Linked DNA regions of Homo sapiens. The protein of the gene in region 1 purifies or fractionates together with the protein of each later gene. This does not show direct contact. Each region holds a gene or a part of one and is shown in the gene's direction. Other genes may lie near its edges.

Region 1 (4,429 bases):
GCAGAACTAAACCAAACCAAACAAAACAAAAAAACAGTTTTTAAAAAGAACTGAGAGATTGAGAGATACGGATGGTCAGGCAAGATATCGTTGTACATGGGATGGAAGAGCTTCATTCAGTGGGCTTTGTGTGTTTCTCAGCAAGATAATTACCATTGTATAAAGAGAAGACACAGAAAATACAGAATTAGGTTAAAAATACAATGGTGGCCTATATGAAAATTAAAGGATTTTTGTTGAATTACTGTGAATAGTGTTTTAAAATTGAAATCCTTTTCTTTTCAAGTCACTGATTGGCTGGAGGAATGTTACACGGCTGCTGGTGTTTTCCACAGATGCCGGGTTTCACTTTGCTGGAGATGGGAAACTTGGTGGCATTGTTTTACCAAATGATGGACAATGTCACCTGGAAAATAATATGTACACAATGAGCCATTATTATGTAAGTGCCTGGTTCCTTACATAGTGAATGTGTTTATGTTGGATTTTAATGTTTAATACTAAGAGCTTGTGGGTGACTGGCTTGGGGTTTCTCAGGGTTTGAGGTTTTGCTGTTTTGGTAAGTAGGGGTCCTGATTGAAAGTGCAGGAAAGCTAGTGTTGCTGTTTGTGAAGATGCAGCTTTGTATTTGCTTCCTTCTGCTCAGACAAGGGCCTCACTGGGGTGGGAAAGGGATGCCCAGATGCCACTTTCACTCTTTGCCTCAACTCCCCGCCCACAGCATTTGGTAGCACAGTCAGTACTCTTTCTAAATAAATAATTTATCTAGTCTCATACTCTTTGTTTTATACGATTTTTAAAAGCAGTCACTCTGCCTTTATTGAAAATAAATATTGGCAAAGCATTCAAGTTCTAGAAGAAATCCAAATGGTAAATCTTGGTCTTTTTCTTAAGTTGTAGATAATAGAATATTTAATTACTGACTATTCTTTAATTTCATTGTCCTTATATTTAATATACATAGATAAACTTACTATTTAAAACCTTTTGAATATGGAATTTTTTATTCATACATGAAAGTAAAGAGAAGAGGATTAGCAATTCATGTATACACACGACTCACTTCAGCAGTTTATATTTGATACTGTTATTTGAAAGCAGTCTTGTAATCTAGTTATATGTATGCAACTAGATGTAATCTAGCTATATATGGATTATATATGTAATCTAGTTATCTAAAGCAGTCTTGTAATCGAGTTATGTGTAATCTTGCATGTATAACTAGATTGAAAAATTAGAAGAGATTATAAGGGTGTATTTAAATACTAAATTATATTACTTGATTTCTTAGGATTATCCTTCTATTGCTCACCTTGTCCAGAAACTGAGTGAAAATAATATTCAGACAATTTTTGCAGTTACTGAAGAATTTCAGCCTGTTTACAAGGTAAATGTGTGAGATAAAAAGAACAAGATTCTAAACATTTTTGATTGTTAGAGGCAAATCATGTCTGAATTGAAATGTGGGAAAATGCCACCAGATAGGCAAACCGAATTTTACAAAAGTGGTTTATATTAATTTTTAATCACATATTATAAAACTGGTTTCTAGGTTTGACTCCTAAAGTTAGTTAGGAGGAAACATGGGAACTGGCATTTAAAGATAAAAGTTGCTCAGTGGATCCTAATTGGTTGAATGAATAGCAGTTGTATTTTACGTGTTTTATCTTTTAATTGCAGGAGCTGAAAAACTTGATCCCTAAGTCAGCAGTAGGAACATTATCTGCAAATTCTAGCAATGTAATTCAGTTGATCATTGATGCATACAATGTGAGTACATCTTAAATAAGATCAGTTTTGGACAATACCCTGTTGAGAATACTTTGTACAAAGAAAGTAAAACTTCCTTCATACACACTTTAGCGAGCCCAAAGTACTACAGAAAAACTTAAATTCTGTATGTATCTAGAGGAAAAACTTTATACATATTGTCTTACAAAAGCAAGATTCATGGCCTAAACAAAGTGAAAATGTGATAAAGGCATGTGGGGAGTATTTCCAAATAACTGTTTGTTTATCATTAAGGAATAGATCTCCTTGTTAGAAAGCAATTGTAAAACATAACTTACATTTAAACTTACAGGATTTCTCCAATCTTTTTCCTCCCCAAAATATCCTTTATAGAGTCATCTATTCTGATGAATTGTGCTAGAAAAGTTTTTTTTTTTGCCAATTCTTCTCTTCCCATATATTCAGAGGATATGGGTTTCTATTTCAGGAGGTACACACTCATATATACGTATACCATAAAATATATAAAAATGTAAATATACATGTGATTTGCCTATTTCAAAAAGATTTATAGTGTTGTTTTCCCCTCACAGATGGGAGGAAGTTGAATTGAAATTAAAGAGGAATTGGCTTATCCTTTTTGAGCATAATTCAGTGTACTTTAATCACACCGAGTTAGCCTTCATTAATAATCATTTAAATAATCTGAAGGCGGTTGTAATTTGGTAGGTAACCCTTGTGTGTCTCGTGCACCACTTTCAGCCCCCATCCCCCTAACCCTTTGGCAGCTTGAATTTTAGACATTTTTACTTCATGTCATGGGGGTACCATAACGCTTTGGAAAGGCCAGCCTACCATATGAGGCTTCCCTTTTTTATGGGGTACCATAATGGTTTGGAAAGGCCTGACTTGGAGGGGTTTTTATAAAGGTTTTTAATATTTTACTTGTTCCACAGCTTTTCCCATTCTCCCCTGTCTTAGATAATTTTCCTAACTCTTGTTCTTTCAGGGGTGTGAACAAGAGATAGCTTGCCATTGTACCCTTCTCCATTTGTCCTGAATAGTCTCATATGTTAAACAAGCCCTGGCTTGAATCCTTCCTTCTTGGGGGATTTTGTTTTTTTTTTTTTTTGGCTGGGCTACAATGGTTCCTTAAGCAAATTTGTTCCTAGACTGCATAGTTGATTGTTTACCCTAGTCCATAGTTAGCTGGAGAGGTAGGACTACAGAAATGCCATTTTGCCGATGGGGAAGACAGCATTTATTTCGTTTTTTTTTGGGGGGTTTCTGTTTTTGTTTTTGTTTTTGTTTTTTAGATGGAGTCGCACTCTGTTGCTCAGGCTGGAGTGCAGTGGTGTGATCTTGGCTCACTGCAACCCCTGCCTCCCGGGTTCAGGCGATTCTTCTGTCTCAGCCTCCCGAGTAGCTGGGATTACAGGTGCACACTGCCATGCTTGGATAAATTTTTTTTTTTTTTTGTATTTTAGCGGAGATGGGGTTTCACTGTGTTGGCCAGGCTGGTCTCCAACTCCTGAGCTCAGGCAGTCCACCTACCTTGGCCTCCCAAAGTGCTGGGATTACAGGTGTGAGCTACCACACCCGGCCTATTCCACATTTTTAAGACTCCTCCTAATTAGTAACAGCCCTCTGCACTGTGTGATCCTGAGTATTTTAACTCAGTGATTAAAACAGGAATACTCTTTTCAATTGTGTATTTTATTTTAAAGATTTGATCCTTATTAATTAAAACCTGTTTCTCTGGCCTCTGTGTTTTCTAGTTACTCAATTGGATTTGGCTTGTAGATACTTTATTGAAATATATTTTTTTCTGAGCAGTTTATCCATTGGTTTTATGCATTCAAGTAGCATTTTGTTTGACTTTTCCTGTGTATAATTAGGCATTCTTTTAGTCCCTTTCCTCAGAAGTCATTTTGGAAAACGGCAAATTGTCAGAAGGCGTAACAATAAGTTACAAATCTTACTGCAAGAACGGGGTGAATGGAACAGGGGAAAATGGAAGAAAATGTTCCAATATTTCCATTGGAGATGAGGTATGTTGTATAAAGCATTTTCTGTAGAAAACATTGGTTATTTATAAGCAAATTTAGTTTATAGTTTGAGAAACATTAAAATAAGTGAGCAACTTTTTGAAATATTTTTTAGTAGATTTAAATTGTTTAGTTGGTTGTTAATCTTTTTTTTCCCTTCAAGGTTCAATTTGAAATTAGCATAACTTCAAATAAGTGTCCAAAAAAGGATTCTGACAGCTTTAAAATTAGGCCTCTGGGCTTTACGGAGGAAGTAGAGGTTATTCTTCAGTACATCTGTGAATGTGAATGCCAAAGCGAAGGCATCCCTGAAAGTCCCAAGTGTCATGAAGGAAATGGGACATTTGAGTGTGGCGCGTGCAGGTAAGCTGGGTGTTGTCAGACAGTGACAGAGCTACATTGGTTTAGAGAGTATAGGCAGGTCATATTTTGGGACATCCAGAGAATATCTCTCTATTTGGAGCAAATTATTTTTTCCAACCACGGTTGCTCACCACAAGATCAGTTTGATGATCTTGTGTGTGATATTTATAGAAAGTTCCTTCCTGCCTTTTTTTCTTAAAGTGATTACTCTTTAAAATAAAAGATTTTATAGCCATGAAAGAAGTATATTCAACAAATTGTTAAGGTAGCGTTTCTCTCATGTGAGA
Region 2 (4,429 bases), about 17 Mb from region 1:
GGGGGATGCGGATCAAGAAGGAAGGAGCAATAAAAAACCAAGACAAGCTGAGAAGGGCACCATCAGGGCGCTCAACTCTAGTTAAGAAGACAGAAGCATCTGGGCACAGTGGCTCACACCTGTAATCCCAGCATTTTGGGAGGCCGAGGCGGGTGGATCACTTGAGGTCAGGAGTTCTAGACCAGCCTGGCCAGAATGGTGAAACCAGGTCTATACTAAAAATACAAAAAAAAAAATAGCTGGGTGTGGTGGCACATGCCTATAACCCCAGCTACTGGGGAGGCTAAGGCACAAGAATTGCTTGAACCTGGGAGGTGGAAGTTGCAGTGAGCCAAGATCGTGCCATTGCACTCTAGCCTGGGCAACAGAGTGAGACACTGTCTCACAAAAACAAAGAAACAAATACACAAAAGAAGACAGAGGCAACAAAGTGAGCATGGTTAGGGCTCAGTGCTAGGGTTCAGGCTGTGAAAACACCAATACATTTCCTGCTAGGGCAAATCTCAGAGCCGCCAACCTTAGTCATTAGTCTCAGCCTCTCCTGACGGGTGGGTTATAGAATGTGTCCTGGAGTTCTTGAGTGTGTTTCAGGATTGAAATGATCCTTTCAACCAACACAATTAAAACTAGGAGACCTTAGACCAGCTGAGTGGAGGCAATGCTTGCCACTCTGATAAAACCGGAATACTACGTTAGTGAATAATGTCTGCATCCAAGAATAATGTAGCGCTCTTTTCTTTGACAAAAGGTTTTAGCAGCATGGCTGGGTCTCTCCTTGGGAATCTGCAGCTTCTTTGCTGCCTCGGCCTCCGGAGGCACAGGCCTCCAACACAGGAGCAATAGAAGTGCTTCTGCCCACATAGGGAGTGGTTCATAGACACTGAGCATGCAGTCAGATTGGGAAGGTCTCATTTTCCTCTAAGCCCCCTTGCAACAGTGCGGGATGAAATGGGCTCCAGTCCCCATATGATCTTTGTTTTTGTGTTTTTGTTTTTTGGCGGGAAGGAGAAAGAAGAGTGTCACCCTGTTGCCTAGGCTGGAGTGCAGTGGCATGATCTTGGCTCACTACAACCTCCACCTCCCAGGTTCAAGCAATTTTCGTGTGTCAGCCTCCTGAGTAGCTGGGATTACAGGTGTGCGCCACCACACCCAGCTAATTTTTTGTATCTTTAGTGGAGATGGGGTTTCACCATGTTGCCAAGTCTGGTCTCGACCTCCTGAGCTCAGGCAATCCACCCACCTTGGCCTCCCAAAGTGCTAGGATTACAGGCATGAGCCACCGCTCTGGCCTGATCTTTGGATTTAGGATTAAAGTCATCTCCAACGCATCAAAAAAAATTGAACATTCACTTTGCACACTACAGTTACTTCCATAAAATACAAGATGCCTAGCCTCATGCTCTGGGATATCCTTCACTGATACAGCACAGAATCTAGGGATAAAGAGACCTAGTATTGACACTAATTCGTTGTGTGAATGAATCACTTAGTCCCTCTGGGAGTTAATTTTCTCACCTGTAAAATGAGGGGATTAGATTAGAGATTTCTACCCTTCTTGCACATCCAAGGATTCATGGTTGTTCACAAGCTTACCTCTCTCAATGAGGCTAGCTGAGTTCTAAGGAGACACATGGTAGACAGATTCATTCAGTTTTTTATTGAGTCTACTTTTGGCCATTGTTCCCATAAAAGTTCCAGCCCAAGTGAAGGCCATTCCTTTCCACCTTGTCAATTCCTGATGCACTCAATTCTATTCTAGGGTTTCTGTGATGCAAAGCCACCCACCCACCAAATCTCTAATTAGACTTTTACAGAACCAAGCAGATCTAGGAACATGCTAGCTTTTAAGAGTTCATGTTCGAGTGCTACCTCTCAAATATCCCCTAGATGATTTCAATTGTCATATGGATCCTTTCAGATCAACTTCCGATGTTGTACTGGTAATTACTATTTTATTTCACCAAATAGTTTTCGCATTAGAGCTCATTTGCTTTGTTTTCCATTTCAGATTAAGACATCAGTTATTTGGGCAACTCCGAATGTTTCCTTCTCAATCCCATTATGGGTAATAATACTAGCAATACTTCTTGGATTGTTGGTTCTCGCCATTTTAACCTTAGCTTTATGGAAGGTAAGTTGATTTACTTTGTTTTCCTTTTAAACTAGAGGGGCTGTTGAGGGAATTTAGAGGGATACAGTTAGGGATTTTAAAAGACAATTATGGAGGCATTTTTGGAAATTTTGAACAGTCTGAAGGATATAAAGGGAAAATCGTGTCTTGTTTGCTTTGGCATACTTAATATGTTTATATAGCTGACATTTAAGATGACTAGAGGTGCTTAATGTTGCTTTCATCTTGAGATTTCTTGTAAATAAATGTAGAGAGAGTTAGGCTGTATTAACTAAGGCCTGTGATCTTCTTTCCAATATGCTTAGAGTGATAATATTCTAATGAAGACTTCTTTTTCTTGTTTAATTAACCAAGATCATAAGCTTTTTATTGACATGGCCCTATCATCAATCCTTTGACATTTTTTATAAGCACTATGCAAATGCAATTAATATAGGTCAATTCTGATTTTTAATTTCAACTACTAATGAGGCCAAATAGATTATGCATGTGATAGGATGCCTGGACTTGGTTTTTAATCTTGCCAATTAGTTTGTCTCCACTGGGAAGCCTGAACTTAGTCTTTGATGTGTTTTACTGAGGTTTGTTCTAAAAGTCCACAACAGGAATTAATTTCTGGCCCACCAACCTAAACAATTGCCAAGTTTCACAGAGCCTTCCATTCCCAAATGGAAATGACGTCCCAGTTACATAAGAGTAATTAACCCAGTCACATCTTTGATAACTATGTGGTTTTCCCTAAAATCATAGTGCGCTTTTATTTTGAAACAATATGCAGCATGACTAATAGACCTATAAACTGAGAAAACCTTGGCTTTGAGTTAAGGAATGGCGTTTCTGATCGTTATCAGCTCTTTGTGACATCCTACACCCATGTGGTCTATGACATGCCTTTAGAATGGACTTTTGTGTTGTTCTGTCACTCATAGTAACTGTATTTCCAATGAGTATAAGATACAACCATGTGTGCCAATTGACAGGATATTCCAGTAGCTCTGAGAAAGAGAGATGACTCAATGTCTCTAAGCCAAACCCAGTTAATTGGCTTCCAACATGAGAAACAGAAGAAAGAATTGAGGTTCCAGGTGTCTAGGAAAATATGTAGTTTACTTGGCAAAGTACTAATTTGACACTGAAGAGGAGGAAAATCCTAGAGTCACCTCTTCCCTGAGTTTCTGGCTAACCTTTGGAAAGTCACTAAGATTCTGTGCCTACCTGGTTCTGGCATTGAAATAAGTGACAAATCTATTCTCCCTCTATATATGCTCTATGTTCCACCAAGCACCGAGGGATGTGTGGCCATCTCTTCACTTCTTTCTATAATCCACCCCAAAGCAGCTGACAGGATACTTTAGGAGACAATCTCCTTTTCCTAGTCAATAGTTAGTGCTTCTGCTCCAGTAAGCATGTGGGAAATCCTTGGGACACATTGCTGTGATCTCAGGAAAATATCCAAGGTCCATAAGTGGTTTGTATGAAAGAGGGACATCTTCCACTCCAACTACAGGACAGGAGAAAGGGTGTGAGCACTCTGCCCTCCTGCTCACCTTGCCTATGCAATAAACTCCTCTCTACAAGTAACAAACACTCTGCTCGAACCTCCTAATTTGGAGAAACAGACTGATTATACGTGCAGAGCTCCAGGCTCCTTCGAAAATACATAAAGGGCCAGGTGTGGTGGCTCACGCCTGTAATCCCAGCACTTTGGGAAGCTGAGACAGGTGGATCACTTGTGGTCAGGAGTTCAACACCAGCCTGGCCAACATGGCAAAACCCCATCTCTCCTACAAATACAAAAATTAGCTGGGTGTGGTGGTGCAGGCCTGTAATCCCAGCTACTCCGGAGGCTGAGGCAGGAGAATCGCTTGAACCGGGAGGCGGAGGTTGCAGTGAGCCAAGATCACGCCACTGTACTCCAGCCTGGGGAATAGAGAGCGAGACTCAGTTTAAAAAAAAAAAAATACATAAAGTGAAAATTCTTTGAATGAGGGGTTTCACAGGTTCCCAGAATGACGTGATTTTATAGCCCATCTTTCCCTTTATAGTGTGGATTCTTTGACAGAGCCAGACCTCCTCAGGAGGACATGACCGACAGGGAACAGCTGACAAATGACAAGACCCCTGAGGCATGACAAGAAAAAAAAAGAAGACCAAAGACCTCAAACACTGGTCCTGTTCAAAGAAAAAGAAAGAACATGAGGGTTAAAAATCAAAGCTTTCTGATACCTGACAGTGACCCAGGAAATGGAGGGGACCCTGGAAACATCACCTCATCTACACCGCACTTTGGAGAAATTG
Region 3 (4,429 bases), on another chromosome or scaffold:
TGTGAGAAAGTGAAACTTCTTGCCAATATTGTTAGGCTGGCATGCTTCATGCTTCAGGACCCAACATTCCCTTCAGAATGTCAAATGCAGTCTCTTTACTGTGTTTCCTTTATCAAAACTTTCTGGACACTGCTCTAATATTCCTCTAGTTTCCTTTGTCACCCAAAGGATGTCCTCATGATTTTGGAAGTCATGGTCAAAAAACTGGTGTTTGAGTTTTCTTTTCTGATCTTCTACCCATTTCCCCTTTTCTTGCCAAAAATCGTGTTTCATCACTGGTCATTTATAACAAAGTTATAAGATTACATTATATCTACAGTATTATGAGATTAAAAACTTTGCTTTAATTAGCAAGAACGTGCAAAAAGCAATCCCACATTCTCATTGCCCTGCTAGTTCTGCATTCTTTCACAGTTCAGCAAAACTATCTGAAATAGTTTCTGGGACATGAGCCAACTCTTCAGCCTTAGCTTGTTCATTATATTCCTTAAGAAGACTTGGAAGACTAATTAGTTGAACCAAAAGAAGAATGTGCTATGATATGAGCAAAACAAATAGAATGTCTTAATGAGAGATGCTTAAAATTTCACTTTGTGAAACTTTTCCTCCCTCATAAAATTTTGTTCTATTTTTAGTTAATACATCAATTCCCAATGTCACAGAAGTAAAGGAGAACATGACATTTGGATCAACTTTAGTCACCAACCCAAATGGAGGATTTCTGGTAAGAATGGAGAGAATGATATTTATTGACAACAGATATGCTATCATTTTAAGTCTTTGTAAGATCTGTTATATAATTTTCAGTCTAATGATTTCTAATTTTAAAACAATTTTTTAAAGGCTTGTGGGCCCTTATATGCCTATAGATGTGGACATTTGCATTACACAACTGGAATCTGTTCTGACGTCAGCCCCACATTTCAAGTCGTGAATTCCATTGCCCCTGTACAAGGTACAGATTTTATGCAATGTTCTTGCATGTTTGAAAAGCCTATGCAATGAATGAGACGTATGTATACAAAGGAACATACCAAAAAGCTTAAAGTATTTTCTTAGCTACCAGCATTACCAATTTAGGTAAATGTTTGCTTTGCCAGTATATAACAAAATCTGACTGCTATTTTTGGAATTGATATTAGTGTAAATAACTTTACAAAGTCATTTTTAAACATCATAGATAAAGCTGTCATGCTGCTTATATTTAAAGAATGAGTCTCTTTGAAGAAAGAAGTAACTTCATTTGAGATATGCTCAAAAACTGTTTTATAAAAACTTATATAAAATTCATATTGAGAAAATTTGCAAAGATAACTCTCATACAATACTAATTAAAATTCAGTAGGTATGAATTTTATCCCACACCAATTGTTATTGAAAGCAATGAATATTTTTATCATCTTTACTTTTTCGAAAACTATTTTTTATTGCTAAAACAATGTGTCTACTTTGGAGAACATCAGTTCATCTTTTAAAATGAACTTCTTTCAGCCATGAAAGCACTTCATATGCCTCTGAAAAAAATAGATTCCAAATTTGACAATTGACTCCTTTTATTGCAGAATGCAGCACTCAACTGGACATAGTCATAGTGCTGGATGGTTCCAACAGTATTTACCCATGGGACAGTGTTACAGCTTTTTTAAATGACCTTCTTGAAAGAATGGATATTGGTCCTAAACAGACACAGGTATGTGACTTTGTGTTTTGATTTCTGTTGTTCTAAAGATAAAAATGCACAAATTTTTAATAAAACCAAATATTCTGAAAGCAAATTAATCAATAAAACTAAAGTTGAGAATGAATTTTATATCCATTTCCTGTTCTTATTTCTGATAAAAAGGACATTACTTTAAGCTGTGTTATTTTCTATTTTTTTCTTTTTTCTTTTTTCTTTTTCTTTTTTAGACAGAGTCTCACTCTGTTGCCCAGGCTGGAGTGCAGTGGTGCAATCTCAGCTCACTGCAACCTTCACCTCCCAGGCTCAAGCAATTCATATTTCTCAGCCTCTCCAGAAGCTGGAATTACAGGCATGCGCCATCACACCTGGCTAATTTTTTAAATTTGTAATAGAGATGGGGTTTCATCATGTTGGCCAGGCTGGTCTCAAACTCCTAGCCTCTGGTTGATACACCTGTCTCTGCCTCTCAAAGCATTGGTATTACAGGCGTGAGCCACTGTGCCCAACCTAGGCTGTGTTATTTTCTAAACAGAAAATATTATGAAAGCTGCCATTTTTAATGCACTTGAAAAATAACTCCTATAGAGTTCTATAAACTCATAGTTTAATTTTTACTTAAAATGGATATAGCCACTTTTGGTAATGTCAGAGCCGGGTGTCAGAGTTTGTAAAAACTAATCTGACATCCCAAACAACCCATCACATTATAATCTCTCCTCTCATATTATACAAATAAGTTAGTAACTGACCAGAGGATACTACTTAAAGCCTGTTGTCCTTTCTGTTAATAATTTCTTTTCCCTAAGTTAAAAGAAAATGCCCCTGGCTATCTCTGCATAAAATCAAATAGTTGTTTGTTTATCCCCCCAATTAATATCTATTTCTAAACACATCTCCTTTATTGCCACTAAATGAAGTGGAACTTCTCACACAGCTTTTCCACTTTAGATACTGAGTTTAATTTAATTACATTTAATTAAATACATTTGACTGATTTAATGTTTATTAAACTCATATGGGCATATATATTAAAATACAGGGCAGACATAATGGATAACAGGCAAATAAAATGTCAAAATGAAGTCAATGCCTCAGGTCAGGAATTAGCCCTAGAATCAGAGCCTAAAAGATTGTTGTGTGGTTTGGAGGCTGTAGAGAGCATAGGAGACTTTAAGATTATAGTACTGCAATCAATACAGTGATCTTCCTTTTTTTTTTTTTTTTCTGAGGACTTTACTTTGGGAGAAGTTTCTGAGGCACTGAAAAAGCAGACTGACTGCGTTAATGTTTGCCACACCTACATTAAATTTGGAACATAATATGTGCACATATATATACATACATGTGTCTTCATGTGTCTGTGTATATTTATGTCTCTCTTAATATTTTGATATCTATGTATATATAATTTTCTAAAAGGATGGTGGTTGAAAATTTCAAAGTTGAACTCAAACTTCAAAGTGAAATGTATTGCTGCATTCCAAGGCTGAATAGGTCTCTGTAGAGAGTGAGTGGAAGGGTAAGGTTATAAATATCCTGCTGGACAATAGAGAACTTGTTGAAATCAGTGTAAAATCATTAAAAATGAAATGGGCTTTTACGTATCACAAAATGTAATTTTCCCTGGAAGTGACTTATTTGCAATTGACCTTCTCAAGTGAAATTACTAGTGGATGGTAGGGGACCTTTTTATCCCGTCTTGCTACAGGGTACAGGGCAGCCTGCATCTTAACAGACCAACTCCAGGATGTGACTTGCTCTTCCTTCTGGCACCTGTTCCTCATGGACCTCCTTTTTTCCCTTCTGAGACCACTCTTCCTTCCTCCTTTCCTCGCTTCCCCTATCCCTTCTCTCCTTGGCCAATAAGATAGCATAGAGTCATAAGATTAAAGCTGGAAAGAATCTTAAAGGTCATTTGGCCCCCAACCTCAATTTATGAAGGAGACACGAGAGGCTAACTGATTTGTTTAAGGTCTTTCTGCTTGCTGATGGCAGATTAGAACACACACAGCTCTCTAATTGTAGCCCAGTTTGCTGTTGTTTTTTTTCTTTCTGAGGGCTCTACTTCTAGAGAAGCTTCAGAGCCAGTACCATCTAATGCCCCTGAATAGTAGATTTCAATCCTTTTCTATTTCATGAGGATGACTGTCCTCATCCTTCCTCAGGCAGCCTCTTGGCTGAAACCGTGCTAGGCTTGGCAATGACTCACTGCCTGGACTAATACCTTAAATGAAATGGCTTGTGTTCCCGCTTTCTCCACTTTTGCCCATGATGTGCTTTCTTTCCTTCTTCTTGTTTTGTCCATCCCATTTGATCTTCTTACCTAACTTTTTCCTTCCAAAGCTAATAACATGCTTGAAATATTTTTTACAATTTATTATACAGCCATCTAAATATTTTATTTTACCTTTAAATTCACTTATGTATATTACTCTTAAAAATTAATTTATTTGTAGCTATTTGTGAAAATTAGTGCAGCTGTGACATGTCTGAAGTTGGTCCACAACTTTAGAAAGAAAATCCATACGGCTCTTTTAGAACAATAATTACAGCTTCTGTGAAGATCTATGCCAGTGACTCCATTTTGTAAAGAAATAAATAACAGTCAATTGCTTATATGCTCAAGCTATTCTTCTGCAATTTCGATGTTTTTCAGTTAGAACTATAATTAATTTACATTTCTGTGTTGAGAGTCCTAAAAGAGGAGCTATTCTGCCTGTCCACCAGAGGAATTCTAGCCTGCCAGAG
Region 4 (4,429 bases), on another chromosome or scaffold:
ACATGGCACATGTATACGTATGTAACAAACCTGCACGTTGTGCACATGTACCCTAAAACTTAAAGTATAATTAAAAAAAAAAAGAAAAAGAAAAGAAAATAGCCCTGGAATGTATCAGCACTGTCAGCCCTCAAAAATCCAGTATCTCCAACAAACTGGGTGTCACAAGGCTTTCTAGTGAAGTGTTCCACACCTGTTTGTTGTCATCTCTCATTAATGTGTGGCATCTCCTGGGATGCATCTTTCAACCAACCAGCATCCCAGATTTATAGGTCAAAGCAGAGGATCAGAGAACTCATCCCAGGGAGGAATGGCACTTGCAGAAATGGGCAGCCATGACTTTGCTTGACTCTTCTGTCTTCTTGCTAGAGTTGTTTTTTAGCTTCCAGACATGAAATGCATTGGGGCTCAGATGACCGGAATAGGCTAGATCTGTCAGTGATGGTCCAAGGGACTTTTCATTGGTAAATCTGCTGAGACTGCTGAACAAGGCTAGTGATGCCTTGCTTGTGAGCTTCCTAATCTGGCTGCTGTATGACATTGCAATTCTGGGCTTCAGGGCCCCAAACCAGCATATCCAAAGAACCTGAAGCCAATTGTTCTGTCATTCTTTAAAGACCCAACGCATGGGATGGCAGATGCCAGGTGCAGAATATAACCTCCTGTCCATCCCTACAGAACATCATATACTGGAGACAAGAGGGCCCAGCCTACCCAGAACAAGACCCTTTCTCCAGATCACTAACTTTCTTGAGGATCTGAAGTTAAGCCACATGCCTAGACTCTTCCTGGGCCAGCAACCATTTTACTTAGAATGTCAAGGGGAAATCCCCTTGGAAATACTCCAGTACCCATTGCCTAAGGACTATGTGCTTATTCTCTTTTTGACCAATCATTATAATTCCAGAGATTTAGGAAGCCCATTGCTGTATCAAGGACTATAAAATGGTGGTGGCCAAGGTGTCAAGGATCCCAGACCTGCCTAGGACTCTCTGTGCCATTGTCCCTGGAGAGAGAACCCAGTTACTCTCACTTCCAGTGCAGTGGCTCCTGATCTTTGAGTTGTTTGGCTTGTTTTTACATGTGATTATTTCACTTTTAAACATCCAGGAAAGAGGCATCTGCAGAAATAAGGATTTCTTTAATAATTTCTTATGTTGGGCACTTGGAATGTCCTGCCACAGGTACATGCACCATGGAACTGGCAAGTGGGCAGACAGAAAGGACAGGCTGGCAGTGCAGGTTTCCCAGGATCTCATGAGGTAGGGCTGCTGCTGCTGCTGCTGCAATATCTGCTGGCCGGAGGCTTTGCTTCCATTTTAGACATCCCAAACAAAGTCATCTTGGGGGACCTAGCCCCAAACCAATCTTGGTACTTAGATCAGGCTGCCTGACATAACTGAGTCTCATTTTCTGTTTCGGATACTCCCAGGTTCTCATGCTGCTTCCCAGTGCCTCCCCCATTAGATGGTACCTAAAGTAAGAAAGCCATTGACACAGAGAGGAGAGAGGAAGTGAGACGGGTCACAGACAAGTGATGGCCTAGTCTCCCAGCCCCCATCCTGCCATAGCACTGTTGCCCTTCACCCTGCCTTGGGCTCTGACATGCTCCCTTCCCCCCCACCCCCGGCAGACTCTGGATGGGCACATGGTGGTGCGTAGCCATGCCCGTGTGTCGTCGCTGACCCTGAAGAGCATCCAGTACACTGATGCCGGAGAGTACATCTGCACCGCCAGCAACACCATCGGCCAGGACTCCCAGTCCATGTACCTTGAAGTGCAATGTAAGGAATAAATGGGGAAGGACCTGGGGGAGGGAGGGGCAAGGCAGGGTCAGGATGAGAGAGGAAAACATCAGCAAGGACCTATGTGCACCCTGTGTGTTCTGCTTACGTTCCCTGCAGCTGACCCTGGGCTATTTCAGAGCTCTGTTCCCAAGCCACCCCCTACACACCATCTCCAGGCTTCTTACAAGCCTGCTGTGCCCTTGAGTCTTCTTCCCATGCTGTGCACAGGAATTCTAGAATGGCCCTGACCTCTACTATACCAGGCGCTGGCTCTGCTTTGGAGCACACCTGCCTTCCCAGTGCCAGGAGACAGGATATGGGGGCTTCATAATCATGGCAGTCATCCTGACAGTCATTGTTATTTATTGCAGATGCCCCAAAGCTACAGGGCCCTGTGGCTGTGTACACTTGGGAGGGGAACCAGGTGAACATCACCTGCGAGGTATTTGCCTATCCCAGTGCCACGATCTCATGGTTTCGGGATGGCCAGCTGCTGCCAAGCTCCAATTACAGCAATATCAAGATCTACAACACCCCCTCTGCCAGCTATCTGGAGGTGAGTCAGGATGGGGGTGGGACAGAGCAGAGAAAGCACAGTTTGACTCTAGGTGGGCTCCAAAATGCAGCTCAAGTCCTCTCTCCTGCTTCTCTGGCACATCCTGAGCAGGGAAGGCATGGGCTAGAGAAGACACTGAGCCTCTTTTCAGCTCCCCTTCGCCCACTCTACCAGTCCCCTCCCTGAATGTGCCTCTCCCATGAGCCCCTCTGCTATTCTTTTCTCTTGTTTAAGGCTGGGCTGGAGCTAATGATTTATACTTTACTAGTTCTGTTTTTTACTAACTTAATTCAGTAAATAAAGATCTGAGTCTGTGACCATCCCATAGGACACTTGTAACCCAATAGCTTCTTCCTTCTAAAGGTGACCCCAGACTCTGAGAATGATTTTGGGAACTACAACTGTACTGCAGTGAACCGCATTGGGCAGGAGTCCTTGGAATTCATCCTTGTTCAAGCAGGTGAGTGTCCCTTACTCACCTGAGAGCAGCTGCCACAACCCCCCACCTAACCCTGCCAGCCCAATTTGTGTACTTGAGTGATTCCAGGATATTGGGAAGAAGAAAGGGCCAGGGTCAGCAAAGCCAGAGAGTTGGGAAGCTGGGAGCCATTGGATCAGCGCATGGGGCATGTTGGGGGAGAAGCATCTGGTGAGATGGGCCAGGAGGACAGGATACAGTGACAGGATTCCCAAGAGTGAGCAGAAATGACAGAGATGTGCCTTGTGACTGAGAGTTAATGGTCTTGGGCCAAACTGGGCTCACCTGAGTCTCCATATGTGTCTTCCCCACAGACACCCCCTCTTCACCATCCATCGACCAGGTGGAGCCATACTCCAGCACAGCCCAGGTGCAGTTTGATGAACCAGAGGCCACAGGTGGGGTGCCCATCCTCAAATACAAAGCTGAGTGGAGAGCAGTTGGTGAAGAAGTATGGCATTCCAAGTGGTATGATGCCAAGGAAGGTGAGTTGGGCGAGTTGGTGTTTCCATTGGGATCATGAGTGCCTCAGTACTCAGATGTCCCCACCTGCCATCCTGGGCATGTTCCTACAGAATCAGGAACTGCACCTCCAGAATTAGGTCAAAGTCATATCTGCCTGTAGAGTTGTTGCCCCTATTGCCACCCCAACCCATGCTCTGTGCTTCAGAGCCTGGTTCTCATGACCCTTCCAGTATGGATGAAGGCATCTGTACCACATTCCAGGCAGGAACCTTGTGTAGGTTCTGAGCGCAGCCAGATGAGTCCAGCCCATAGGTTCTGAGCATGGCCAGATGAGTCTAATCCATCCTACTCTGCACGTTTGAGTTACCTGTGCTGCAGGTTCTCTGCCGACACCCGGCCAGTCCTGCTTGGATATCTGTACTCAGGGACTGGCTGTCTTGTAATTGTGATAGTAACCAAATAAGCACAGCCAGCAGGACAAGTCTGCCCTTAAATCAGTCCTGTGCTAGCTTTCCAAGCTAAAGATTAAAAGACTGACCCTTGGATTACTGCAGTGTGAAGATTCTGAGCCCAGATCATCTGAGGATAATGTGTGCTTATGTTGGACTCCCCTTTTTGGGTTTAATTGGAATAACTCAGTGAAGTATGTTTTGTTTCTGTACAAATTTTTAATCCTGGTCTCGTATGTGGTAATTCGAGTGGAATTGGAAGTAGGCTGGGATATCAGTATCACAGCCATTCAGAGACATAGTCCAGTGCAGTTTCACTCAGAATTAGTTCTGCCAGAAAGTTTCCATCACTTCTTCAGCTTCTCGGGGGAGCCAGGGGGCCGAGAGGAGCTGCTGGGTAATCAGGATTGGAGCCAGAAGAAAGCAATCACTTTGCCTTCCTAACTTCCCTCTGAAATCTCATACCAATTTTGTGGCAGGTTGATCTCATGTCACTATCTGTCCACCCGACTTTTTTTTTTTTTTAAAGATCAATTCTAGTTATTTTTATTATAAAATATACATAACATACATTTTACGTTCCATCATTTTTAAGTGTAAAATTCAGTGGCATTAAGTTGTAACCATCACCACCATCCATCTCCAGAACTTTTTATCATCCCAAACTGAAACTCTGTACCCATTAAACACTAGC
Region 5 (4,429 bases), on another chromosome or scaffold:
ACACCTGGCTTAATTTTTGTATTTTTTGGTAGAGACAGGGTGTCGTCATATTGGTCAGGCCGGTCTTGAACTCCTGTCCTCAGGTGATCCACCCGCCTTGGCCTCCCAAAGTGCTGGGATTACAGGTGTGAGCCACCGCACCTGGCCTTGTGTATTTTTTTTTTTTTACTAGAGACTGGGTTTCACCTTGTTGCCCAGGCTGGTGTGGCCTCAAGTGATCCTCCTGCCTTGGCCTCCCAAAGTGCTGAGATTACAGGCATGAGCCACTCTGTCTAGCTATAGATATATATTTTCATTTCTCTTGGGTATATATACCTAAAAGTGGAATTGCTGGGTCATGTGGTAACTAACTTTTTGAGAAACTGCCAAACTGTTTTCCAAATGAGCAGTACCATTTTACTTTCCCACCAGCAGTGTATGAGGGTTTCAGTTTCTCTGCGTTCTTTCCAGCATTTGTTTTTATGAGTCTTTTTTATTAGAGCCAACTTGGTACTAAGTGGTATCGTTTTGATTTGCCATTTCCCTGATGGCTAATGATGTTAAGCATCTTTTCGTGTGCTTATTGTATGTTCATATTGTATATTTTTACATTCGTATGTCTTCTTTGGAGAAATGTCTATTAAAATCATTTGCCCATTTTTAAATTGGGTTGTCTTTATATTATTGAGTTGTAAAGAGTTATTTTACTAGGCCCTTAGCAGATATATGATTTACAAGTATTTTCTAAGAGGAATTATTTTAAATTTTGAGATTAAAAACAAATTTTTTTAGAATACTCTGTTCTGATCCACAAAGTGGTACTATACTGTGACCAGTGTTGTCATAACTGGCTTTTTCTTTTGTATTTAAGGGATGAAGATGCCCCTGCTAAGATTCCAGATGAAGAGGCCACAAAACCCGAAGGCTGGTTAGATGATGAGCCTGAGTACGTACCTGATCCAGACGCAGAGAAACCTGAGGATTGGTAAGAACTTCAGTTAACTTTTTTTAATTACCTGGTTTTTTTGTTTGTTTTTTTTTTTGAGATGGAGTCTCACTCTGTCTCCCAGGCTGGAGTTCAGTGGCGCAGTTTCGGCTCACTGCAACTTTCACCTCCTGGGTTCAAGTGATTCTCCTCCATCAGCCTTGCGAGTAGCTGGGATTACAGGTGTGTGCCACCACACCCGGCAAATTTTTGTATTTTTTGTATTTTTAGTAGAGACGGACTTTCACCGTGTTGGCCAGGCTGGTCTCAAAGTCCTGACCTCAAGTGATCTGTCTGCCTTGGCCTCCCAAAGTGCTGGGATTACAGGCGTGAGCCACCACACCCAGCATAAGTTACCTGTTTTTATTGAAGTCAATCTTAATACTTAAATATAGCCAAGTTCCCTAATTTCAGGGTAGAATTTGACAATTTTAATTATATTTTCTTCTTTTTTAAAAAATAAATTTTTCCTGAAAAACTGTTATTACTGGAAATACAGGAGAAGCTGGTCTGGGATACTGTGAAAACATTTCAGCAGGATCTTGGCAGCCCTGGGCCAGCCAGCTGTTCATAGTCCTGCATCACAGAACCTGTTTATAATTTGTTGTTTGTACCTCCGTAGGGATGAAGACATGGATGGAGAATGGGAGGCTCCTCAGATTGCCAACCCTAGATGTGAGTCAGCTCCTGGATGTGGTGTCTGGCAGCGACCTGTGATTGACAACCCCAATTATAAAGGCAAATGGAAGCCTCCTATGATTGACAATCCCAGTTACCAGGTTTGTGCCTCTTGATGGTTGAGTTGCTTTCATTAATCTGTTTGTATTCAGATAGAAGTTTTATCTAGAGTAAGGCTGCCAGGTTGGTCATTATATTCAAGCTGTTGAATTAAAAGCAGAAAGTAGACTTCCTAAGTTGAAAGAGAGCTTAATGGGTTAGGTATTGCAAAGATAAACCTAGAAACTGGAGTGAATAACTTTCTTTAACTTTATTTATTTATTTATTTATTTATTTATTTTTGAGATGGAGTTTCGCTCTTCTACCCAGGCTGGAGGGCAGTGGTGTGATGTCGCCTCACTGCAACCTCTGCCTTCCGGTTTCAAGCGATTCTCTTGCCTCAGACTCCCGAGTAGCTGGGATTACAGGTGCCTGCCACCACGCCTGGCTAATTTTTATATTTTTAGCAGAGATGGTGTTTCACCATGTTGGCCAGGCTGGTCTCGAACTCCTGACCTCGCGATCCGCCCACCTCAACCTCCTAAAGTGCTGGGATTACAGGCGTGAGCCACTGCATCTGGTCAACTTTCTTTTTTTGAGACTGAGTCTCACTCTAGTGGCCAGGCTGGAGTGCAATGGCTCAGTCTCGGCACACTGCCACCTCCACCTCCTGGGTTCAAGCAATTCTCCTGACTCAGCCTCCCGAGTAGCTGGGAGCACAGGTGTGCTCACAGGTGTGCTCACCTCACCTGGCTGATTTTTTGTATTTTTAGTAGAGACGGGGCTTCGCCATGTTGGCCAGGCTGGTCTCGAACTCCTGACCTCAGGTGATCCACCTGCCTTCGCCTTTCGAAGTCCTGGGGTTTCAGGCGGGAGCCACTGTGCCCAGCCAAGAATAACTTTCATAGTTGCTTTGTAACTATATTTAAAAACAAAAGAGAAATGGAAAACTGTTGATTTGGGTACCCTGCTCTTGGGTGCTAGGGTTGCTTCAGCCATAGGATCCACAGCTGAGTCTGGACAATCTGTGATGTGGTGGGTAGAGGACTGTGGTTTGAGTCAGCATCTTGACTACATCAAGTCAGCTCACTGCTTGGCCTCAATGCTTGCAACTATAAAAAGACTGAGGCCCAAAAGAGATGGTAAGGATACAAGTAGTAAGGTTGTGAGGCTTTAGGCCTCATGCAAAAATGTACACCCTCAGACCTTTGTTCCTTTTATCTTTCTAGCCAAGTAAAATTATTTATAATCTCTACAAAGAGTGGCAATTAAAATTATTTATAATCATTAATTTCTACTTTATTTATATACAAATACTAATATATGTATATACATATACAGAAACAGGAGAAGCTGGTCTGATACTGTGAAAACATTTCAGCAGGATCTTGGCATAGTATATGTATATATACATATACTAATATATGTTTTTCTGTTTGTAAATTTTTTATTTTTTTCCTCATAGTCGTTAAAGATGTTATGTGAATGTATTTTTAATTGTGTAGTCAAACAATAAGATAAAAGTTTTACTTTAAAAAAGTTGCCCTTTAGGCTGGGCGTAGTGGCTCACGCCTATAATCCCAGCACTTGAGAGGCTGAGGTGGGTGGATCACCTGAGGTCAGCCATTCGAGACCAGCCTGGCCAACATAGTGAAACACCATCTCTACTAAAAGCACAAAAATTGGCCTGGTATGGTGGCACACACCTGTAGTCCCAGCTGCTTAGGCACGAGGCTGAGGCACAAGGATCACTTGAACACAGGAGGCAGAAGTTACAGTGAAAAAGAAGTTGCCCTTTAGTTGTTCTCCTGTTGGTGGCCATTTAGGTGGATTGTCACTTTTGCTTTCAGAGTCACTGCTGCTGTAATAATCCTTGTACATGTCTGGGTGTATGTTGTGAGTATTTCTCTAGGTAGTTATCTAGAAGTGAATTGCTGGTTGATGATCATGTGCGTTTTATTTTAAATCACCACTGAAGAAGTACGTACTGACTTATGCTCCCACTCTCATTAGCAGTTGCTAAGAGTGGAGGCTGTTGAATGGGCCAGGAACTTGAGGGGTTGGTTTGGACCAAGGTCATGGGTGACAGTAGAAATTGGAAGTAGTTGGAATCCTGCAGTCTTAGAGGCAGAGTGCGTAAAATAATCTGTAGCATTTGTTATTTATTTTCCTGTTGCTTATTTCAAGTTTCATGAAGTTGGCATTTCTCTCCATTGTTCATGCAAAATTTCTCTTACGGTAGATTCACCATAAACTTTTGTTGATCATTATCTGAAATGATTTTCTGAAACATTTTTTTTTCTAGGGAATCTGGAAACCCAGGAAAATACCAAATCCAGATTTCTTTGAAGATCTGGAACCTTTCAGAATGACTCCTTTTAGTGCTATTGGTTTGGAGCTGTGGTCCATGACCTCTGACATTTTTTTTGACAACTTTATCATTTGTGCTGATCGAAGAATAGTTGATGATTGGGCCAATGATGGATGGGGCCTGAAGAAAGCTGCTGATGGGGCTGCTGAGGTTCGTGTTTGCTGCTTGTGCATTTGTGTCTGTTATTGTAAGGAGCTGTTATTTTGTGAAAGTCTGTGTTAAGGTTTTTTTTCTTCATTTGGCAATATTGGCATAAAAAGTATAACCATATGCCTGCAAAAGACACAATATTGGGTTTTGGGGCATGATTTCATTAGTCTAATGTAGTGGCTTTAGAGTCTGTTTGTGTTCAGGGTTTTTTTTTTATTATTTGTCTG
Region 6 (4,429 bases), on another chromosome or scaffold:
AACAATAGAAAATGAATTCATTCATTTCCATGTCTTCATAGGACTTAACAGCTTACAGCTAGATGGTAGGAGCTAAACAAGTAGTTGTTGGTTTAAATGGGCAAATAAGTGACAGAATTAAAACCTTTTTTAAACCCTTTCTTCTGCCAGGTACAGTAACTCATGCCTATAATCCCAGCACTTAGCGAGGCTGAGGTGGGAAGATCGCTTGAGTTCAGGAGCTCAAGACCAGCCTGGACAACATAGCGAGACTCCATCTCTAAAACAGACTAAAATAAAAAATAGAAAAATTTTCTGGCTGGGCGTAGTGGCTTATGCCTGTAATCCCAACACTTTGGGAGGCTGAGGTGGGTGGATCACCTGAGGTTGGGAGCTCGAGACCAGCCTGACCAACATGGAGACACCCTGTCTCTATTAAAAATACAAAATTAGCTGGGCATGGTGGCGCATGCCTGTAGTCCTAGCTACTTGGGAGGCTGAGGTAGGAGAATTGCTTGAACCCGGGAGGCGGAGGTTGCAGTGAGCCGAGATCATGCCATTGCACTCCGCCTGGGCAACAAGACCGAAACTCCATCTCAAAAAAAAATTAGCCAGGTGTGGTGGCACATGCCTGTAATCCTAGCTGCTTGGGAGGCTGAGGCATGAGAATCGCTTGAACCTGCGAGCCAGAGGTTGCAATGAGCCGTGATCACGCCACTGCACTCCAGCCTGGGTGACTGAGCAAGACTCCATTTCAAAAAAAAAAACCCAACTTTTCTTCATCTAATGCTATACCCAAACTGATTCTTGTGCCTTGTCTTCCAGTATAGTTGAGAAATATATGATAGGCAGTGGCTCATGTCTATAATCCCAACATTTAGGGTGGCCAAGGTGGGGTGATATTGCTTGAGGCCAGGGGTTCAAGACCAGCTTGGGCAACATGGCGAGACCCCCATCTCTACAAAATAAAGTAAAATAAATTAACTGGGTGTGGTGGCATGTGCCTGTAATCCCAGCTACTTGGGAGGCTGAGGTGGGAAGAGCACTTGAGCCTAGGAGTTGCAGGCTGCAGTGAACATGATCATGCGTACCACTGTACTCCAGCCTGGTCAACAGAGTGAGACCTTGTCTCAAAAAAAAAAAAAAAATACATGAGAATTGACTCCCAAATACCTCCCTCTTATATCAATTTAATACTTTGAGTTGCCATAATGCTCAATTTCTAAATCTGATTTTCCCTCCCTTCATCAATCCAGTCTAAGGGAAGCCTGGAGATAACAGAGAGCCAGTCTGCAGATGCTGAACCTCCACCTCCTCCTAAGCCAGACCTGAGCCGTTACACAGGGTTGCGAACACACCTCGGCTTGGCTACTAATGAGGGTAAGGGCTGCCTTGATTTGCAAGATACTAGAACTAGGGGCAGGATTGAGAAGGTTGCTTATGAGCTGTGGAAGACAGGCAAGGGCTGGGAGATATTACTCGTGTTGTGACTTTAAACACCCAACAGTTGGTACTTGTGCTACTTTGCAACTGAAAGAGAAGAGAGGCCATTTAGCTATTGGCAGTGAATGGGACTTTTGCCGGGAAAATGGTCAGCCTCTAGGCAGACCAGAGAACATCACAGAACCTTTTTGGTGCATTTACCCACCCTGAATTCTGGGCTGGTGTGAGTCTTTAAAAGTCTTGATTTCAGCGAAGGGTATATCTATTCCTACCTTGTCCTCTCCCTGTACTTAAGGAACCCTAGGCAGATAAAGTGAACAACTCATAGACTAGACGCAGTGGCTCACACCTGTGATCCCAGCACTTTGGGAGGCCAACGCAGGAGGATTGCTTGAGCCCAGGAGTTCAAGACCACCCTGGGCAACATAGCAAGACTCTGTCTCTACAAAAAATTTAAAAAAGTTAGCTGGGCATGGTGGCATATGCCTGCAGTCCCAGCTACTCAGGAGGCTGAGGTGGGAGCCCAGGAGTTCAAGGCTCCAGTGAGCTATAATCGTGCCACTGCACTCTAGCTTGGACAGTAGAGTGAGACCCTGTCTCTTAAACCAAAAAACCGCTTGTAAAATAGTGCCCCCTTGGCCTTTTTTCTTGCAGATAGTAGCTTATTGGCCAAGGACAGCCCCCCGACACCTACCATGTACAAGTATCGGCCGGGTTACAGTAGCAGCAGTACGTCAGCTGCCATGCCGCATTCCTCCAGCGCCAAGGTACTGAGTACTCTAAGAGGTGGGGTAATAACATGCCAACTGGCCAGGCACAGTGGCTCATTCCTGTAATCCCAGCACTTTGGGAGCCCAAGGTGGGTGGATCACAAGGTCAAGAGATTGAGACCGTCCTGGCCAACATGGTGAAACCCCGTCTCTACTAAAAATACAAAAATTAGGCCAGGCGTGGTGGCTCACGCCTGTAATCCCAGCACTTTGGGAGGCCGAGACTGGTGGATCACAAGGTCAGGAGTTCGAGACCAGCCTGGCTAATGTGGTGAAACCCCATCTCTACTAAAAATACAAAAATTGCCGGGCACAGTGGCTCACGCCTGTAATCCCAGCACTTTGGGAGGCTGAGGCAGGTGAATCACGAGGTCAGGAGATTGAGACCATCCTGGCTAACATGGTGAAACCCCGTCTCTACTAAAAATACAAAAAAATTAGCCAGGCATGGTGGCAGGTGCCTGTAGTCCCAGCTACTCGGGAGGCTGAGCCAGGAGAATGGCGTGAACCCAGGAAGCGGAGCTTGCAGTTAGCCGAGATCATGCCACTGCACTCCAGCCTGGGCAGCAGAGCGAGACCGCATCTCAAAAAAAAAATAAATAAATAAATACAAAAATTATCTGGGCGTGGTGGGGGGGCACCTGTAATCCCAGCTATTCGGGAGGCTGAGGCAGGAGAATCACTTGAATCTGGGAGGTGGAGGTGGCAGTGAGTCGAGATTGCGCCACTGCACTCCAGTCTGGGTGACAGAGTGAGAGTCCATCTCAAAAAAAAAAAAAAAAAATTAGCTGGTAGTGGTATGCATCTGTAGTCCCAGCTACTTGGCAGGCTGAGGCAAGGAGAATCGCTTGAACCTGGGAGGAGAATTGCTTGAACCTGGGAGGTGGAGGCTGCAGTGAGCTGAGCTCCCACTGCTGTATTCCAGTCTGGTGACAGAGTGAGACTACACCTCAAAAAAAAAAAAAAAAAAAAAAAGGCCAAGCACAGTGGCTCAAGCCTGTAATCCCAGCACTTGGGGAGGCTGAGGCAGACGGACCACCCGAGGTCAGGAGTTTGAGACCAGCCTGGCCAACTTGGTGAAACCCTGTCTCTACTAAAAATACAAAAATTAGCTGGGCGTGGTGGCGGGGCGCCTGTAATCCCAGCTACTCGGGAAGCTGAGGCAGGAGAATCGTTTGAACCTGGGAGGCTGAGGTTGCAGTGAGCCAAGATTGCACCATCACGCTCCAGCCTGGGCTTAAAACACACACACACACACACACACACACACACAAACAAATGCCAACTGTTACGGGAAAAAAAGAAGATTAGGGGAAGGAAAAGGCAGAAGAAAGGACATTTCACTAATTGTTGGCATTCGTGGAACTCAATCTCCTTGATACTGTGTCCTTCATCAGACTGGGCAATATAGCATAATAGATTAGTGCTTGATCCGAGTTTATAACCCAGTTCTGCCCACGGGCGAGATACTCAGCCTTTCTACGTCTTGCTTTCTGTATCTGAAAAGGAGATGATATTTGCCTGAATTCAGTTTTTCTTGAGGGATTAACCCAGATAATGCATGTAAGAGTTCTAAGCTTATTATTGGCACATAATTCTCTTTTTGACCAACTCCTTGAGCTCTGGGGTCTAGCTTCTGTCACAAAAGGAGCACTAAGAGCCTGCTTTACTTTCTTCCTCAGTTGAGTCGTGGGGACAGCTTGAAGGAGCCAACCTCAATTGCAGAGAGCAGCCGTCACCCCAGCTACCGCTCAGAGCCCAGCTTGGAACCAGAGAGCTTCCGTTCTCCTACCTTTGGCAAAAGTTTTCACTTCGATCCACTATCCAGTGGCTCACGCTCCTCCAGCCTCAAGTCAGCCCAGGGCACAGGCTTTGAGCTGGGCCAGTTGCAATCCATTCGTTCAGAGGGCACCACCTCCACCTCCTATAAGAGCCTGGCCAACCAGACACGCAATGGAAGCCTATCTTATGACAGCTTGCTCACACCTTCAGACAGCCCTGATTTTGAGTCAGTGCAGGCAGGGCCTGAGCCAGACCCACCTTTAGGCTATACCTCTCCCTTCCTGTCAGCCAGGCTGGCCCAGCAACGGGAAGCTGAGAGGCACCCACGTTTGGTGCCAACTGGCCCAACACACCGAGAGCCCTCACCAGTCCGTTACGACAATCTGTCGCGCCACATTGTGGCCTCTCTCCAGGAACGAGAGAAGTTGCTGCGCCAGTCACCCCCACTCCCGGGC
Region 7 (3,591 bases), on another chromosome or scaffold:
CGCTTTAGGCTCCTCCTGAATCTGCACAATAGGACAAATACTTCCTTTGTACCTAACTCCTAGATCATAGATAACAGGCTTTGAAAATGATGGGTTGCCATGTATAAGGGACAAGAGCACTAACACTTCTTAGTTTCAGGGTAAAAACTTCCAAAGTTGGAAAACTCCTATGCCTAAGGCTTTGGAAGGGAAAGTCTATGTTTCTCTTCTTTCCTCAGCCTTATTCCTAAGGCTTTGAGAGCTTTTCAGGTGCCCTGGAAGGCAGCCTTATGCTCCAGCCTTGGGAGGTAGTATAGCTGAGCACTTAAGCAAGCTCTGGACTCAGACAATTCTGGGCTTCAATCTCAGATTTGTGACCCTGGGCTTTACCTCTGTTTTTGTATCTGTAACGTGGAAACAGTCTTCAGAAGAACAGGAAGAACTAAATGAGATAACATGTACAGTTCTTACTACACAAAAAGCTCATAGTACTTAATAGTAGCTTTTTTTTTTTTTTTGAGGTGGAATCTCACTCTGTTGGCTAGGCTGGAGTGCAGTGGCACAATCTCGACTCACTGCAACCTCCACCTCCTAGGTTCAAGCAATTCTCAGCCTCAGCCTCCTGAGTAGCTGGGATTACAGGCACATACCACCACATCTGGCTAATTTTTTGTATTTTTAGTAGAGACGGGTTTCACCATATTGGCCAGGCTGGTCTTAAACTCCTGGCCTCATGTGATCCGCCTGCCTTGGCCTCCCAAAGTGTGATTACAGGCGTGAGCCACCACACTTGGCCCAATAGTAGCTTATTCTAATCCCAGCTCTGCCACTGACTTGCTATGGCACTGCTGTTCCTTAAGTATCTCTCATCTAATGGGATCAGTTATCTGTGTTCACCAAACAGAACTAAGCGCAAGACTGAATTTTAAAATTCCCATGCAAAGGCTTTGAAAGATACAGTCCTCCACTTCCCCATACCCAGGCCTGAGAGTTATTCATTGAGTTTCTTGTACACTGCTTCTCTACCCCAGCTCATATACTCATAACCTTCCCCCTACCCTCAGGTGTGGGTTTTGCTACCAGGCAGGTGGCCAGCATGACCAAGCCTACCACAATCATCGAAAAGAATGGGGACATTCTCACCCTAAAAACACACAGCACCTTCAAGAACACAGAGATCAGCTTTAAGTTGGGGGTGGAGTTCGATGAGACAACAGCAGATGACAGGAAGGTCAAGGTAAGTCAGGGAAACAGGGGTGGGGAATGGAGAGTGCTGAGACTCTAAAAGAGAATAGGCTGGTAGTCTTGGCTCCCTGGTATTGCACCCTGAGGGGCAGACTATCATGGGGAATTTAAATGAAACAAGATTCATAAAGCCTGTGTAGTGCTGGAATGCCACTGATGCTAAATACATGTCAGTTCTGTCCTCTTGTTTTCTTCCCTCCCTTCTTGGGATTCATCTATTGTCTGCCTCGGAATGGGCAGCACAGAGCCAGGATGTTCTTCTGACCTCAGTATCTACTCCAGCTCCAGCTGGGTGACCCTGTGCAAGGTATGCAGTAGCTCTAGGTTTCTTTCCCCTTCCATAGATGGCAGAGTTATGTGGCCATGGCTGTGACCTGAAGTGCTTTAGGAATGATGCCCAGAAGTCAGGGCCCTCCACTGAGTGAGGTCATTGTGACCTCCAGCAGCAAAAAAGGCAGCCAGGAACTAGAAGCACCTACTCAGATGCCGCTTCAACTTCTAACTCCCAGACATGGCCAATGACCCTGACAAACTATTTCCAGTGTTGCCAGCTGACAGGCAGGAAGAGCTATGTTCCGTGATAGGGCATTCACCTTGTCATGAATGTGTTTGCAGTGTCTTCCCACCAAGCCTTAGCCCCTCCTCCCAGGGTTCTATCACCCTGCAGTGGCTGTCTTGGCAGCTTGCCTCAGCCTTCCAGGCCAGGCATGGGAGCGAGAGAACTTAAGGGCTTTGACCTCTATAGGGTGTCCCTATAGCAGTGTTCTATCATGACACTATCATTCAGCCCCATCAGCTGTTTCCTCTTCCTCATAGCTGTCCCCAGAAAGAACAGGATCACACAGGTGGCTGGCAGCAGAGCTGGGGATGGTGCCCAAAGATGGCAGTCTACCTTGGATAAAGGTGGCTGCCCCACCACCTGCTCATACCTCCTTGGACTTGCCTACTTTCTCAAGGGGCAAGAACCCCAATTAAACACAATAGCCCTGTGGAATGCCTAGGGCAAAAATATCTACTCTGAGTAGGCAAAAAAAACTAGGGGAATGAGAACAAGGAGTAAGGTAAGGATAAAAAAGAGCACACTAAGAGACAGGCCTCATACCCCTTATCACCTAAACAATACACAGAACCTTCTCAGATTCTCCTACTGAACCACCTTGCTCATCAGGATCCCTTAGCCTGGCCTTGTGGCCCCCAAACTCCTAGGAAAGAGAGCTGGAAGAGCTGCCAAATGAGAACCAGCTGATGTATGTATGCTGGCAGCACCCAGAGCTGAGGAACCACTTCAAGGGCATCCAGTCACAGGACTTTGTGGTTGCTGCCCTCTTGTTGGCTAAAGAGGTCACATGATGTGGACCAAGAAAAGGTGTAGGAATACAGGGCAGGAAGTCTAATTATCCAATACTTCCTATCACTAAGGGTCTTTTAGACATTATGTGGACTAACCACAAGGCTGGATAAAGATTCTCAGGACTACTCCTCCTCCTCAGTCAGTCTTTCCCAGGGATAGACTAGTAAATCCCACCTGTATCTGAGGGGACCAGGCTACGGGAATCACCTAGAGTACAGATAAGTGTCTGTCTTGAAGGCTTGTGGTACTTCTCAGAGCCAGGCTCTCTGGCTCCACCATACTGCCTGCCTCTCCCTCCTTGCCTAATATCTGAAGGCCTCTTCCCCAGAAAGGCAGTAGTGGAGCAGAGGCTGGAGGTGAACTAGATGTCTTGCAGGGATAGCTGGGAGGCGGATTGCCTGAGCTCTTGTCCTCACACCATCACTAGTTTGGGTCAAAGGCTGTGTGCTCTGTGGCCCAGTGTCCAGACCCCACCCTGCCCCTCAATTCCTGACTAAGATCACAGCTCAGGCCTCTACCCTCTTTCCACAGTCCATTGTGACACTGGATGGAGGGAAACTTGTTCACCTGCAGAAATGGGACGGGCAAGAGACCACACTTGTGCGGGAGCTAATTGATGGAAAACTCATCCTGGTAAGATGGGCAACTTTGGAGCTATATCTGATTGGTTATTACTACTGCTCTTTCAGCCAAGCCTGTTCTAAAAAGCCAAGTCCTCCCCTGAGAGCTGTAGAAGCTGGGACAAGAGAGTGGTTGTGGGTCAGGGTGGTATCAGGTGGGAATTTTCTGTGTAGTGGCTTTGGACTCACACAGGCCGGAACTCAAATCTTACCTTATAGGCTACATGACTGTGGGCAAATCACCTTTTCCAAGTGCAACTGTAAAACGGGTATTAATAATACCAACCTTGTAGGGCTGCTGGGAAGCCTGTAAGAGACAGTGTATGCACAGCACAAAGCATCACTGATTGAGGAACACAGCAGGTGCTCCATGTCCTTTGTTTGCTCTTCCTGTGT

Evidence for each region.
Region 2: the proteins of ITGB1 (region 1) and ITGA8 purify together in Homo sapiens (affinity purification with western blotting; 2 studies listed by BioGRID and IntAct, with this or other methods). This does not show direct contact.
Region 3: the proteins of ITGB1 (region 1) and ITGA1 purify together in Homo sapiens (affinity purification with western blotting; 2 studies listed by BioGRID). This does not show direct contact.
Region 4: the proteins of ITGB1 (region 1) and NCAM1 purify together in Homo sapiens (affinity purification with western blotting; one study listed by BioGRID). This does not show direct contact.
Region 5: the proteins of ITGB1 (region 1) and CANX purify together in Homo sapiens (affinity purification with mass spectrometry; 3 studies listed by BioGRID and IntAct, with this or other methods). This does not show direct contact.
Region 6: the proteins of ITGB1 (region 1) and ZDHHC5 purify together in Homo sapiens (co-immunoprecipitation; one large-scale study listed by IntAct). This does not show direct contact.
Region 7: the proteins of ITGB1 (region 1) and FABP3 purify together in Homo sapiens (co-immunoprecipitation; one study listed by IntAct). This does not show direct contact.

The regions. Positions count from the first base shown.
Region 1 is NC_000010.11:32,919,598-32,924,026, reverse strand, and holds part of ITGB1 (integrin beta-1 isoform 1A precursor), read left to right. Parts: intron 1-286; coding exon 287-442; intron 443-1,291; coding exon 1,292-1,387; intron 1,388-1,680; coding exon 1,681-1,770; intron 1,771-3,641; coding exon 3,642-3,782; intron 3,783-3,942; coding exon 3,943-4,142; intron 4,143-4,429.
Region 2 is NC_000010.11:15,516,992-15,521,420, reverse strand, and holds part of ITGA8 (integrin alpha-8 isoform 1 preproprotein), read left to right. Parts: intron 1-2,008; coding exon 2,009-2,131; intron 2,132-4,176; coding exon 4,177-4,263; 3' UTR 4,264-4,429. UniProt on the Homo sapiens protein: Integrin alpha-8/beta-1 functions in the genesis of kidney and probably of other organs by regulating the recruitment of mesenchymal cells into epithelial structures.
Region 3 is NC_000005.10:52,864,128-52,868,556, forward strand, and holds part of ITGA1 (integrin alpha-1 precursor), read left to right. Parts: intron 1-635; coding exon 636-724; intron 725-843; coding exon 844-955; intron 956-1,562; coding exon 1,563-1,690; intron 1,691-4,429. UniProt on the Homo sapiens protein: Integrin alpha-1/beta-1 is a receptor for laminin and collagen. It recognizes the proline-hydroxylated sequence G-F-P-G-E-R in collagen. Involved in anchorage-dependent, negative regulation of EGF-stimulated cell growth.
Region 4 is NC_000011.10:113,230,012-113,234,440, forward strand, and holds part of NCAM1 (neural cell adhesion molecule 1 isoform 2 precursor), read left to right. Parts: intron 1-1,184; coding exon of another isoform or gene 1,185-1,262; intron 1,263-1,633; coding exon 1,634-1,784; intron 1,785-2,158; coding exon 2,159-2,343; intron 2,344-2,706; coding exon 2,707-2,803; intron 2,804-3,135; coding exon 3,136-3,306; intron 3,307-4,429.
Region 5 is NC_000005.10:179,718,818-179,723,246, forward strand, and holds part of CANX (calnexin isoform d precursor), read left to right. Parts: intron 1-850; coding exon 851-964; intron 965-1,586; coding exon 1,587-1,743; intron 1,744-3,986; coding exon 3,987-4,202; intron 4,203-4,429. UniProt on the Homo sapiens protein: Calcium-binding protein that interacts with newly synthesized monoglucosylated glycoproteins in the endoplasmic reticulum. It may act in assisting protein assembly and/or in the retention within the ER of unassembled protein subunits.
Region 6 is NC_000011.10:57,694,685-57,699,113, forward strand, and holds part of ZDHHC5 (palmitoyltransferase ZDHHC5), read left to right. Parts: intron 1-1,235; coding exon 1,236-1,359; intron 1,360-2,076; coding exon 2,077-2,189; intron 2,190-3,874; coding exon 3,875-4,429. UniProt on the Homo sapiens protein: Palmitoyltransferase that catalyzes the addition of palmitate onto various protein substrates such as CTNND2, CD36, GSDMD, NLRP3, NOD1, NOD2, STAT3 and S1PR1 thus plays a role in various biological processes including cell adhesion, inflammation, fatty acid uptake, bacterial sensing or cardiac functions.
Region 7 is NC_000001.11:31,367,010-31,370,600, reverse strand, and holds part of FABP3 (fatty acid-binding protein, heart), read left to right. Parts: intron 1-1,010; coding exon of another isoform or gene 1,011-1,043; coding exon 1,044-1,216; intron 1,217-3,106; coding exon 3,107-3,208; intron 3,209-3,591. UniProt on the Homo sapiens protein: FABPs are thought to play a role in the intracellular transport of long-chain fatty acids and their acyl-CoA esters.